Regions from separate parts of the Homo sapiens genome. Here region 2 is linked to region 1. The links come from fine-mapping of genetic effects on gene expression. A gene starts in region 1. The other region holds a variant in brackets. All regions are shown on one strand. Distances are from middle to middle.

Region 1 (5,384 bases):
AGTTCCGTGATAATCAGTCTATTCTTTCTTCTCTGTGTCAGTTATCCCTTGCTGTGTGACAAAATCATCCCAAAACTTAGTGGCTTAAACAACACTTATTTATATATATATACACATATATACACACACACGTACATATATGTGTGTGTATATATATGTATATATACACATATATAGTATATGTATACATACACACACTAGGATAATAAATATATATATAAATATATATAAGGAAACTATAGGATAACAAATGTTGTTTATTATATACACTATACATACAGTATCCTTCCATTTATTTATTTTTATTTAAGTTGTGGGGTACATATGCAGGTTTGTTACAGAGGTAAACTTGTGTAATGGGGGTTTGTTGTACAGAATATTTCATCACCTAGGTATTAAGTCTAGGACCCATTAGTTATTTTTCCTGATCCTCTCCCTCCTCCCACTGTCTACACTCTGATAGGCCCCAGTGTGTATTGTGCCCCTCTATGTCTTCATGTGTTCTCATCATTTAGCTCCCACTTATAAGTGAGAACATGTGGTACTTGGTTTTCTGTTTCTGCATTAGTTTGCTAAGGATAATGGTCTCCAGCTCCATCCATGTTCCTGCGAAGGGCATGAGATCATTCTTTTTCATGGCTGCATAGTATTCCATGGAGTATATGTACCACATTTTCTTTATCAAGTCTACCATTGATGGACATTTAGGTTGACTCCATGTCTTCGCTATTGTGAATAGTGTGGCAATGAACATACATATGTGTATGTCTTTATAACAGAACAACTTATATTCCTTTGGGTATATACCCAGTAATGTGATTGCTGGGTCAAATGGTATTTCTGCCTCTAGGTCTTTGAGGAATCGCCACGCTGTCTTCCACAATAGTTGAATTCATTTAAACTCCCACCAGCACTGTAAAATGTTCCTTTTTCTCCACAACCTCACCAGCACCTGTTATTTTTTGACTTTTTAATAATAGCCATTCTGACTGGTATGAGATAGTATCTCACTGCGGTTTTGATTTGCATTTTTCTGATGATTGGTGGTGTTGAGCTTTTTCATTATGATTGTTGGCTGCAAGTATGTCTTCTTTCGAAAAGCGTTGGCCGGGCGTGGTGGCTCACACCTGTAATCCCGGCACTTTGGGAGGCCAAGGAGGACGGATCACCTGAGGTTGGGAGTTTGAGACCAGCCTGACCTACATGGAGAAACCCTGTCTCTACTAAAAATACAAAAAATTAGCCAGGCCAGTCTGTGGCCCAGGGGTTGGGGACCCCTGTTTTAAGGTATTGCAGAATTGTCCCCTCCACACACAGCGAAGTGTAAATCCGTTTAATCTCTGAACTATCTAAAGATGAATATGCTGCTGCTCTCCTGCAATAAAGGGCAATGACTTAAAAGAGGTGGGGGTGGAGAGGCAGAAATGTCCTCTGTTTTACTGCTGTGTAAAACTGGTCACGCCCCTTAGAAGCACCACCACATGCCTAACTGTTGTTGATAATTAATTTACCTGATGCAAGTGAGTGAAAAATTTAAATGATCATAATTTACGTTGCCTTTAAACGACAGAACAATTTAAGTCCTCTAGTTAGCTAGTTCCTTTAAAACACACCCCACATCCCTACCAGAATCACTGCCCATCCCCCCCCACCCCCCCGCCCAAACAGCAATGGTTATTTATTTCTAACATAATCCGGGGACCCTTGCCCCTTAAAATAATTAAATAATATATGCCATATTTTCTCTAGAAGGCACTAGATTTGGCATCAAAAGACTTGCTTTGGCATTCAAGAACAGTGTGTTTGAGGAGGAGGCGTTTATCTTCCCTGAGCCTCAATTTCTTTATCTGTAAAACAACAAAGAACATCAAAGCTCTTTGTAATTTCTTCCTCTTTCCTCAAATAACACTTTGCTCATTACTGCGTTTTTAGAACTTATATCCTAGCGTTAAGTGGAAGCTTAACTGGAAGCTCCATGAAGGTAGGCCTTCCTTTCTGATAACCTAGCGTAAGATCAATAAATGTTTATTAAATGAGGCACTTTACTTCACAAAGGATATGGCATTTTAACGGTTACAAGCGTTCCCAGTCAACGCATCCACAAAGCATTAGGCCACCTATAAACTAGGAATTTAAAAGGCACCAAAATCCTAGAAGTCCTAGGAGGGCGTGGTGACGCAAGCAGGTGAACGCTGGCCGATGCTGACAACCCACTCCTGACGCGCTTCCGGTGCGACGCTGTCTCTCCATGCCAGGACTGAGTTGTGGGGGAGGGAGGCGGTTAGCGGGCTTTAGCGCCTTTTCTGGCGGCGGTAGATTTGAAGCGCTTCAAAGGACCGGACCCAGAGAAGAGGAAAACTCTACCGGTGCAGGTAAGTGGTATGAGGCTCAAGTTGTTCTGGCGGCGTCATTTCAGCAGTCCCTGCGTACGAAAGCGGGAAGGGCCTGGGAAGAGGGGCGGAGCCGGCGCGGCTGACCGGGTTGGGTTTACCGTCTTTCCCTCGAGGTATCGGGGCTGCTTGGGCCCAGAGGAAGTCCCTGAGGACCGCAGCAGTGCCTTTGCCGCTGTTGCAGAAGGAGAAGGCTTGCAGTCGAGCCCCGGGGCCTGGGGACGGTCCTTCCTCTGCCAGCCCCCGCCCTCCCCACTCAGGCGCACACCTCCCTCACTGACGCATTTTGCCGCACAAGCTGTAACATGGCGGCAGCGACTGCGGCCTGAACTCTAGGGAGCCGGGTTGATTTTTAAAGCTTCAAAATCCTAAGACTCAGCACTGTTGCGGGGTAGGTGGCGGGACTGGTGGGGAAGGGGGAGACAGCCTGACGTCCTGTCAGGCTAGGGTTGGAGAGTGACGGGCGAAGAGCCTGAATCACAGGGATTAAAATTGAAGACTAGCTTTCCTCCTCTTTCGACCTTTTCCTCTCACAGCACAGTGGCTGTCGTGCAGTTAAGTGGCAGAGGCCACTTTGTTAAGCATTTTTCTAAAACTCAAGTCCAGGGTCTTGAGCTCTCGCGAAGTTCCCCCGTGTTTCGGAGGAGCTGTGAGCTGCGCAGGCCTTTTAGGAGGAGATAATTACTCTTTAGGAGGAAGATGATGATTTCGGGGCTCAGTATGCCTGAAGGGGAAGTATGCTAATTTGGTTCTTGGTTAGTCTTTTTTTTTGAGACGGAGTCTCGCTCTGTCGCCTAGGCTGGAATGCAGTGGCGCGATCTTGGCTCACTGCAACCTCCGCCTCCTGGGTTCAAGTGATTCTTCTGCCTCAGCCTCCCAAGTAGCTGGGACTACAGGCACGTGCCACCATGCCCGGCTAATTTTTTGTGTTTTTAGTAGAGACGGGTTTTCACCGTGTTAGCCAGGATGGTCGATCTCCTGACCTCGTGATCCGCCCACCTCGGCCTCCCAAAGTGCTGGGATTACAGGCGAGAGCCACCGCGCACGGCCAGCTCATGTTTAGTCTTAAGGAGCAAAGTCTAGATGTGCTGGCAAGGAGTATGCACAATCGTTTTGGAAATGCTATAAAAGCACCATTTTGTGCATTGATTTTAATTTCTTTCCACGATAGCCCTTTCTGTGTGTAACCAACATTTTGCAGTAGTGAACACAAATACAAAAGTATTTGCTTTTATAGTTTGGTACTAACATAGTTGTCCAAAGAACAATTAGATGTTTTAGAAATTAGGGGGGCCTGATATTAACTTTCAGTAGTTAAAACCAGGAAAAAAGAGTGAGTGTGTGTGTGTGTCGGTCACACACACGTTTTTGTCTTTGTGTATTCCCATTTGGTAACAGGATGGCCGGTAATTGCTACTTTGTAACAATGACGGGTGGGGGGGTGAACATTTTATAAATTTTGAAATCGTGCTATAAAATCCAGAAAAGATACATTTAGAATGGCTGCTTCTCTCCTGTTTTTAATATATCCTGAAAATTTACCCGTTTTAGCACTCCCCTTTTTTTTATGTTAACGAGTTGGGACAGAATTATTTCTGTAACAAATTACATGGTTCTGTGTCTTAAACAAGAGTTCATTGTACATTGTTTGACTATTTCTTTATGATTCAGAATTATTGATGCTCTGAGATCCTATAGGGTCTTGTAGTAGGATTCTGCGCATTTGAATTGTTGGTTTCCTTTTTAAGGCTTTTCTAGGCAGTCAGTTGTCAGGAGTGCTCCTGCTGTCAGGAGTGTATAAGTATGTAAACTTCTTAGGTTAGAAAAATTTGGACTTTCTGGCCCAATTATCTTTCTGAGCTTCAGTTTCTTCACCTACCTGCAAAATGACATTTTGATCTCCACCTTCCATCAACTGTGGGCTTGAAAATTAAATACTCAGCTTTGTTAAAATTGTGTGTGAAGTTGGCTTTCATTAACTCAGTGGTTCCTTTATGGGTGAAGAGTGTTCATTACATTTATTTTTAACCATATAGTCGATTTACTGTGGTGCTTATTATTGTGGTCTTGCAGTATTGGTGACTTCTACATATTTTTGATATTTTGCCTTAAATTAGATTTTCTGTGAGGCAGCATCCTCTTCTTTATACAAAGGGAAAGTGGAAGCCATTCATAATAAAGTACTTCTGTTAGGACACTATCTGGGGTTAATTCTTTAAATAGTAGTTGCCCCTTTAGTTAGGCTTTTTTCCTTCCTATTAGTTTATAAATAGAGTATTTAAACATAATTATAACATGTTGTCTATTTTTAGAATCCCAGTGTACTAAGATGTCATGAAGGAATACATAGATAATTAATGCAAGTGACCTGAAGAGTTTGTTGCAAGTCTTTCTGTTGCATTGTGGCATTGCATGCTTTTTGCTTTTATTTATTTATTTTTTTCAGACAGAGTCTTGCTCTGTCGCCCAGGCTGGAGTGCAGTGGCATGATCTCAGCTCACTGCAACCTCCACCTCCTGAGCTCAAGGGATTCTCACGCCTCAGCCTCCCTAGTAGCTGGGAGTACAGGTGCCTGCCACCACACCGGGTAATTTTTATATTTTTAGTAGAGAAGGGGTTTCACCATGTTGGCTACGCTGGTCTCAAATTCCTGACCTCAAGTAATCCATCCGCCTCCGCCTCCCAAAGTGCTGGGATTACAGGCGTGAGCCACTGTGCACTGTGCCCAGCCTGACTTTTGCTTTTTTTTTTGAGACAGAGTCTCGCTGTCTTGCCCATACTGGAGTGCAGTGGCGTGATCTCGGCTCACTGCAACCTCCGCCTCCCGGGTTCAAGCAATTCTTCTGCCTCAGCTTCCTGAGTAGCTGGGATTACAGGCATGTGCCACCACACCCAGCTGATTTTTGTATTTTTTATAGAGATGGGGTTTCACCATGTTGGTTAGGCTGGTCCCAAACTCCTGACCTCATGATCTGCCCACCTTGGCCTCCCAAA
Region 2 (5,384 bases), 76 kb after region 1:
GTTAACAAAGGTGAAACACATAACATACACCCTTACAAAAAAGGTCAAAATGTAAAATTAAAACTTTAAACTCTTAAAAACTACAAAAAAGTTTGTGTTGGCTACCATTTGTACAACATATTTAAACATTTTCATTTTGTGGCAGCACATGAAAAAAGTGATAGTAGAAAATAAAGTCATTGGGGGTTTTCAAATAGCAGAATTGGCAGTTTTGCCATGTAGGAGAAGCAAATAAATATTAGTTTCCCCAAAATTCACATTTGAAAATATTTAGATAAAAGTCACAGAATTTTTCTCAGTAGAGACCCCAATAATTAGCTGCTGTAGGTTACCTGTTTGAAAGGACAATATCTCTTTAGAGTATAACTTTACTAATTTGGGTATAGAGAAGAAGTCTTAGGAATAAGAACATGATCTTAAAGGAGAGAAGAGGAACAGAGGAAGACATAAAAGCAAGAAAAATGTCATGGTAATTGCAATCACTAAAAAACTGTATTCTCAGTCAGTGCAGAATACTGTCTTCTGTCTACAACAGGTGCTTATTCCCGAACTGTTATTGCATCATGGATTTAATTTGCTTGGAGTTAGTCTGATCATTCAAATGTTTTATTGTGTACCGGAGAGCATTTAGAAGATATTTTACACTATTAGGAGGTTGGTCCTTAAGAACTCTGATACAGGCCAGTTGTGGTAGCTCATGTCTATAATCCCAGAACCATGGGAGGCCAAGGCAGGAGGACTGCTTGACCTCAGGAGTTGGAGACCAGCCTAGGAAACATAGCCCATCTCTATAAAAAATTTTTTAAAGTAGCCAGGCATAGTGGTGTATGCCTAGTCCCATCTACTCAGAATGCTAAGGTGGGAGAATCACTTAAGCCTGGGAAGTCAAGGCTTCAGTGAGCCGTGATCATGCCACTGCACTCCAGCCTGGGCAACAGAGCAAGACCCTATCTCAAAAAATAAAATAAATAAAAAATCAGGAAGATATGTTACCTTTGTCCACCAGATTGGGCTTTAAAAAAAAGAACTTGGTACAACCTTTCATACCAAGTTTGGAAGTTTTGGCAAATGCTCCCACTGAATATACTTAATCATAGAGTCTTATGATACCTACTGTATTAGTCCATTCTCAAATTACTATAAAGAACTACCTGAAACTGGGTAATTTATGAAGAAAAGAGGTTTAAATAGGCTCAAAGTTCCACAGGTTGTACAGGAAGCATGGCTGGGAGGCCTCAGGAAACTTAACAATCATGGCATAAGGCAAAGAGGAAGTAAGCATGTCTTCAAATGATGGTAAGACAGAGAGAGTGTGAAGGGGGAAGTGCTACACACTTTTAAACAACAAAATCTCATGAGAATTCACTCACAAGACAGCACTAGGAGGATGGTGTTAAACCATTAGAAACCACCCCCGATGATCTAATCACTTCCCATCAGGACCCACCTCCAACACTTGGGATCACAATTCAACAAGGGATTTGGGTGGCAATACAGAGCCAAACCATATCATTCTGCTCTTAACCCCTCCCAAATCTCATGTCCTTCTCATATTTCAAAACCAATTATGCCTTCCCAACAGTCCCCAAAGTCTTAACTCATTCCAGCATTAACTCAAAAGTTTCTTTACTGGAAGACTTTTTATTATGGCTTCAATCTCATCCCTTGTTATTGGTCTGTTCAGGTTTTGGATTTCTTCATGGTTCAATCTTGATAGGTTGTATGTGTCTAGGAACTTATCCATGTATTCTTGATTGTCCAATTTATTGACATATAGTTGCTCATACTAGCCTCTAATGATCTTTTGAATTTCTGCAGCATCAGTTGTAATGTCTCATTTTTCATCTCTGAGTTTTTTTATTCAGGTCTTCTCTTTTTTTCTTAATCTGGCTAGAGGTTTGTAAATTTTGTTTATCTTTAAAAAAAAAAAGACAACTTTTCTGGCTGGGCACGGTGGCTCATGCCTGCAATCCTAGCACTTTGGGAGTCCAAGGCGAGCAGATCACAAGGTCAGGAGTTCAAGACCAGCCTGGCCAACATGGTGAAATCTTGTCTCTACTAAAAAAAATACAAAAATTAGCTGAGCGTGGTGGTGCGTGCCTGTAATCCTAGCTACTCAGGAGGCTGAGACAGAAGAATTGCTTGAACCCAGGAGGCAGAGGTTGCAGTGAGCTGAGATCACACCATTGCACTCCAACCTGGTTGACAGAGCAAGACTCTGTCTCAAAAAAAAAAAAATCAACTTTTCATTTCACTGTTTTTTTTTGTTTTGTTTTGTTTCTTTCCATTTCATTTATTTCTGCTCTGATCTTTATTATTTATTTTCTTCTACTAATTTTGCACTTGGTTTGTGTCTAGGGATTTTGGGTTTGGTTTGCTCTTGCTTTTCTAGTTCTTTAAGATGCCTCATTAGGTTGCTTATTTTATATATATATATATATT[T/A]TTTTTTTTTTCTTTGAGACAGAGTCTTGCTCTATTGCCCAGGCTGGAGTGCAGTGGCACGATCTTGACTCACTGCAACCTCCACTTAGGGCTCAAGCAATCCTCCAGCCTCAGCCTCCTGAGTAGCTGGGACCACAGGCGTGCACCACCCTGCCTGGCTATTTTTTGTATTTTTTGTGGAGACAGGGTTTCACCATGTTGGCCAGGCTGGTCTCGAACTCCTGAGCTCAAAGAGATCTGCCTGCCTTAGCCTCCCAAAGTGCTAGGATTATAGGCATGAGCCACTACGCCTGGCCTGATGGTACATTATTAATCCTTATACAACTCAATGTTCTTCTATAATAGCTGAAATCATTCTGTATAGCAGGATTTGTCATCCTGAGTTCATCAAACCAGAGTGTGAAATGAAGAACTTCTGAAAACTCTTTAGCAGAAGCCTGTTCTTGCACTAGATGCTGGGTGGGAGAATATGGCGTACTTGTCAAGGCTCCCTGAAGACCTTTTAATGCTGCTTCTAACCGCTGAGACAATTCATAAAATTTCTTTAATTTGCCTCCCAGTGGAACAAATGCACCCCATGCCTTCTCTTGCAACTTCTCATCTGCTGGCTGCTGGATTACCTCTTGTATTTCATGGTCATCTCCTCTGTATGACTGTAAGTCCTCCAAGATGCCGTTTGCATCTTTTAATACTACATTCACCTAATTAATTATAAATTTCCTTTTCAGATTCTGTAGGCTGGGCATTTTCAGGCACTGCTTGTAATTCTATCCTTATCCTTTTATCCTCCTCTTGAACCTCCAAGCACTCTCAGCCCCTCTCCTCTGCCCTCCAGGGGCTGAGCTGCACAGACAGCTCCTCAGCAGTGCTAGGGGAAGCCCCAGGCCTGGAGCTAGAGAGCAGTGGCACTGGGACGAGAAGACCCTTCAAACATGCCCCTGTGGTGAACTGCGACAAAAATATTACCATTTGTGGAGCACATATTAATGGCACAACAGACACCAAACATAAATCACCCCATTCATTCCTCACAACTCTCAAGAAAATATATTCATTGTTTTAAAATCTCATTTTCTCTTCTCTCTTTCTTGTTCATGCATGAGAGCACATGCACATAAAACCACAGCAAATATAGCTATCCCAAAAGGATGCACTCCCTTAGAAACCCAACTTAATAGCAACTTGTTTTCTACTCCACTTTTTTTTAAATATTAAAAGTTAGGCATTTGCAGGCACAGAAAGACAAATATATTATGTTCTCACTCATTATGTGTGAGCTAAAAAGTGATCTAGTGGAGGCAGGGACTAGAATGACAGTTATTCTATCAGAAGCTGGTAAGGATGTGGAGACACAGTGGGGATGTACAAACTTACAGTTAGATATAAGGAATAAGTTCTAGTGTTTGATAGCCTAGTGGGGGGACTATAGTTAACAACAATATATTGTACATTTCAAAATAACTAGAAGATTTGAAATGTTCCCAACACGAAGAAATGATAAATGTTCAAGGTGACAGATAACCTAAATTCCCTTACTTGATCATTACATAATGTATGCATGGGTCAAAATACCACATGTACTCCATAAACATGTACAAATATATTATGTATCAATTTTAAAAGTTGGGCATTTGACTTTGAACCTTTTTGGAACTTTTGCCCTTTCAACTTACAAGAAACCGTCTCCTGCTTTCATGCATCTCTTCTCTTTTCTTTTCTAGTTTTTTTCTCATTTCAATTTCATATAATGCATTCTGTCGCTTTATTTCCTCAGCATCTTTTTCTTCATATTTTTTCCTTCTTTCCTCTTCTTCCTCATGTTCCTTTATTCTAAAGCAAAAACATAATTATAATTGAGAACAAAGCAGAAAAATAGGTTATATTTTTAAGAAATGAATTCAATTCCAACCTGGAATGAGTTGAAGCTGCAAGGAAAAATCTGTGAATTTCTTTGGGGGAAAAGAACAGACATTAAATAGCAGTGACTAAAACTAATCCAATCTTGGTTAACCTAGAATTGGCAATACTTTCCTTGCTTCAAAATTTATTTCATTACTCACCCAAGTAAGTGTTCTTTTCCTTTAGAAAGAACCAGTTAATGGGATGACAGTAAGAAGAAATGGTGACATTATTTTACAGAAAGGTTCCTAATCCCTAGTGCTTCCCAACTTCAGCCCTAGATGATGCTACATAAGCCATGGGCCTAGCCTCTCAAGGAATGCAGTTTGATGGAATGAAAGGAAGAAAGGTCTCCTTACTCAACTGACCACTTGGGTTGTAATTCTTTCTGTAGCCAGTATTGACTAGCTGATAATTTCTTCTGAATTGTGAGCCTCCCTGGCTATCTTTCAGAACACATGTGTGAGTTCCTCAGAGATCCCTGAGGGTCCTCCTCACTGCAGAGCCCTGATCTGAGTGATTTAGCTCCAGCTCCATCTCTTCAGCTCACCCCTAAACCCCACCACTATCGCTACCAGGAGCTCCCACACTAAGCAGTTGATTAAAGACTCCAGGTCTCAAAGGCCCTTCATCCAGCAGCCAAACCTCTGCATACTGGCAAGACAGCGCAAGTCCAAGTTGTCTCCTTGCCCATGGAAAACTCACGCATCCTTGCTAGCCAATCAACAATATACAGGCTTTCTCACTACTCTATCTGCCCTCTCTCTCTTTTTTTTTTTTTTCCTGAAAAGGTAGGCATAGGGCAGGTCGACAACCCACCTAAATAGATGAATGTCTGAGGAATAAACCTTTCTTTCTTTAAAAAAATTTTTTTCTATAGAAATGGGGTCTTGCTATGTTGCCCAGGCTGGTCTCAAACTCCTGGACTGAAGCAATCCTCCCGCCTAAGCCTCCCAAAGTGTTGGGATTACAGGCATGAGCCAATGTACCCAGCCAACCTTTCTTTCATATGCACCCAATCGAGAAAACATTTTTTACTGGAG

The links. PIP is the estimated chance that this variant, and not a neighbour inherited with it, causes the effect.
Region 2: its variant is the best candidate, but not a certain one, in a credible set for the expression of PPIG in Th17 cells (Schmiedel 2018, PIP 0.86).

Annotation. Positions count from the first base shown.
Region 1 is chr2:169,582,119-169,587,502 of GRCh38, forward strand. PPIG (peptidylprolyl isomerase G) reads left to right here and starts at 2,233. Exons shown (of 14, transcript NM_004792.3): 1 at 2,233-2,372. RefSeq lists an enhancer at 2,149-2,198.
Region 2 is chr2:169,658,165-169,663,548 of GRCh38, forward strand. CFAP210 (cilia and flagella associated protein 210) reads right to left here. Exons shown (of 9, transcript NM_001085447.2): 5 at 4,116-4,272. It also overlaps the pseudogene LOC100421474. Among named protein-coding and RNA genes, the nearest start is that of CFAP210, 34 kb to the right of the region's middle. The variant T/A (reference allele first, on the strand shown) is at 2,443.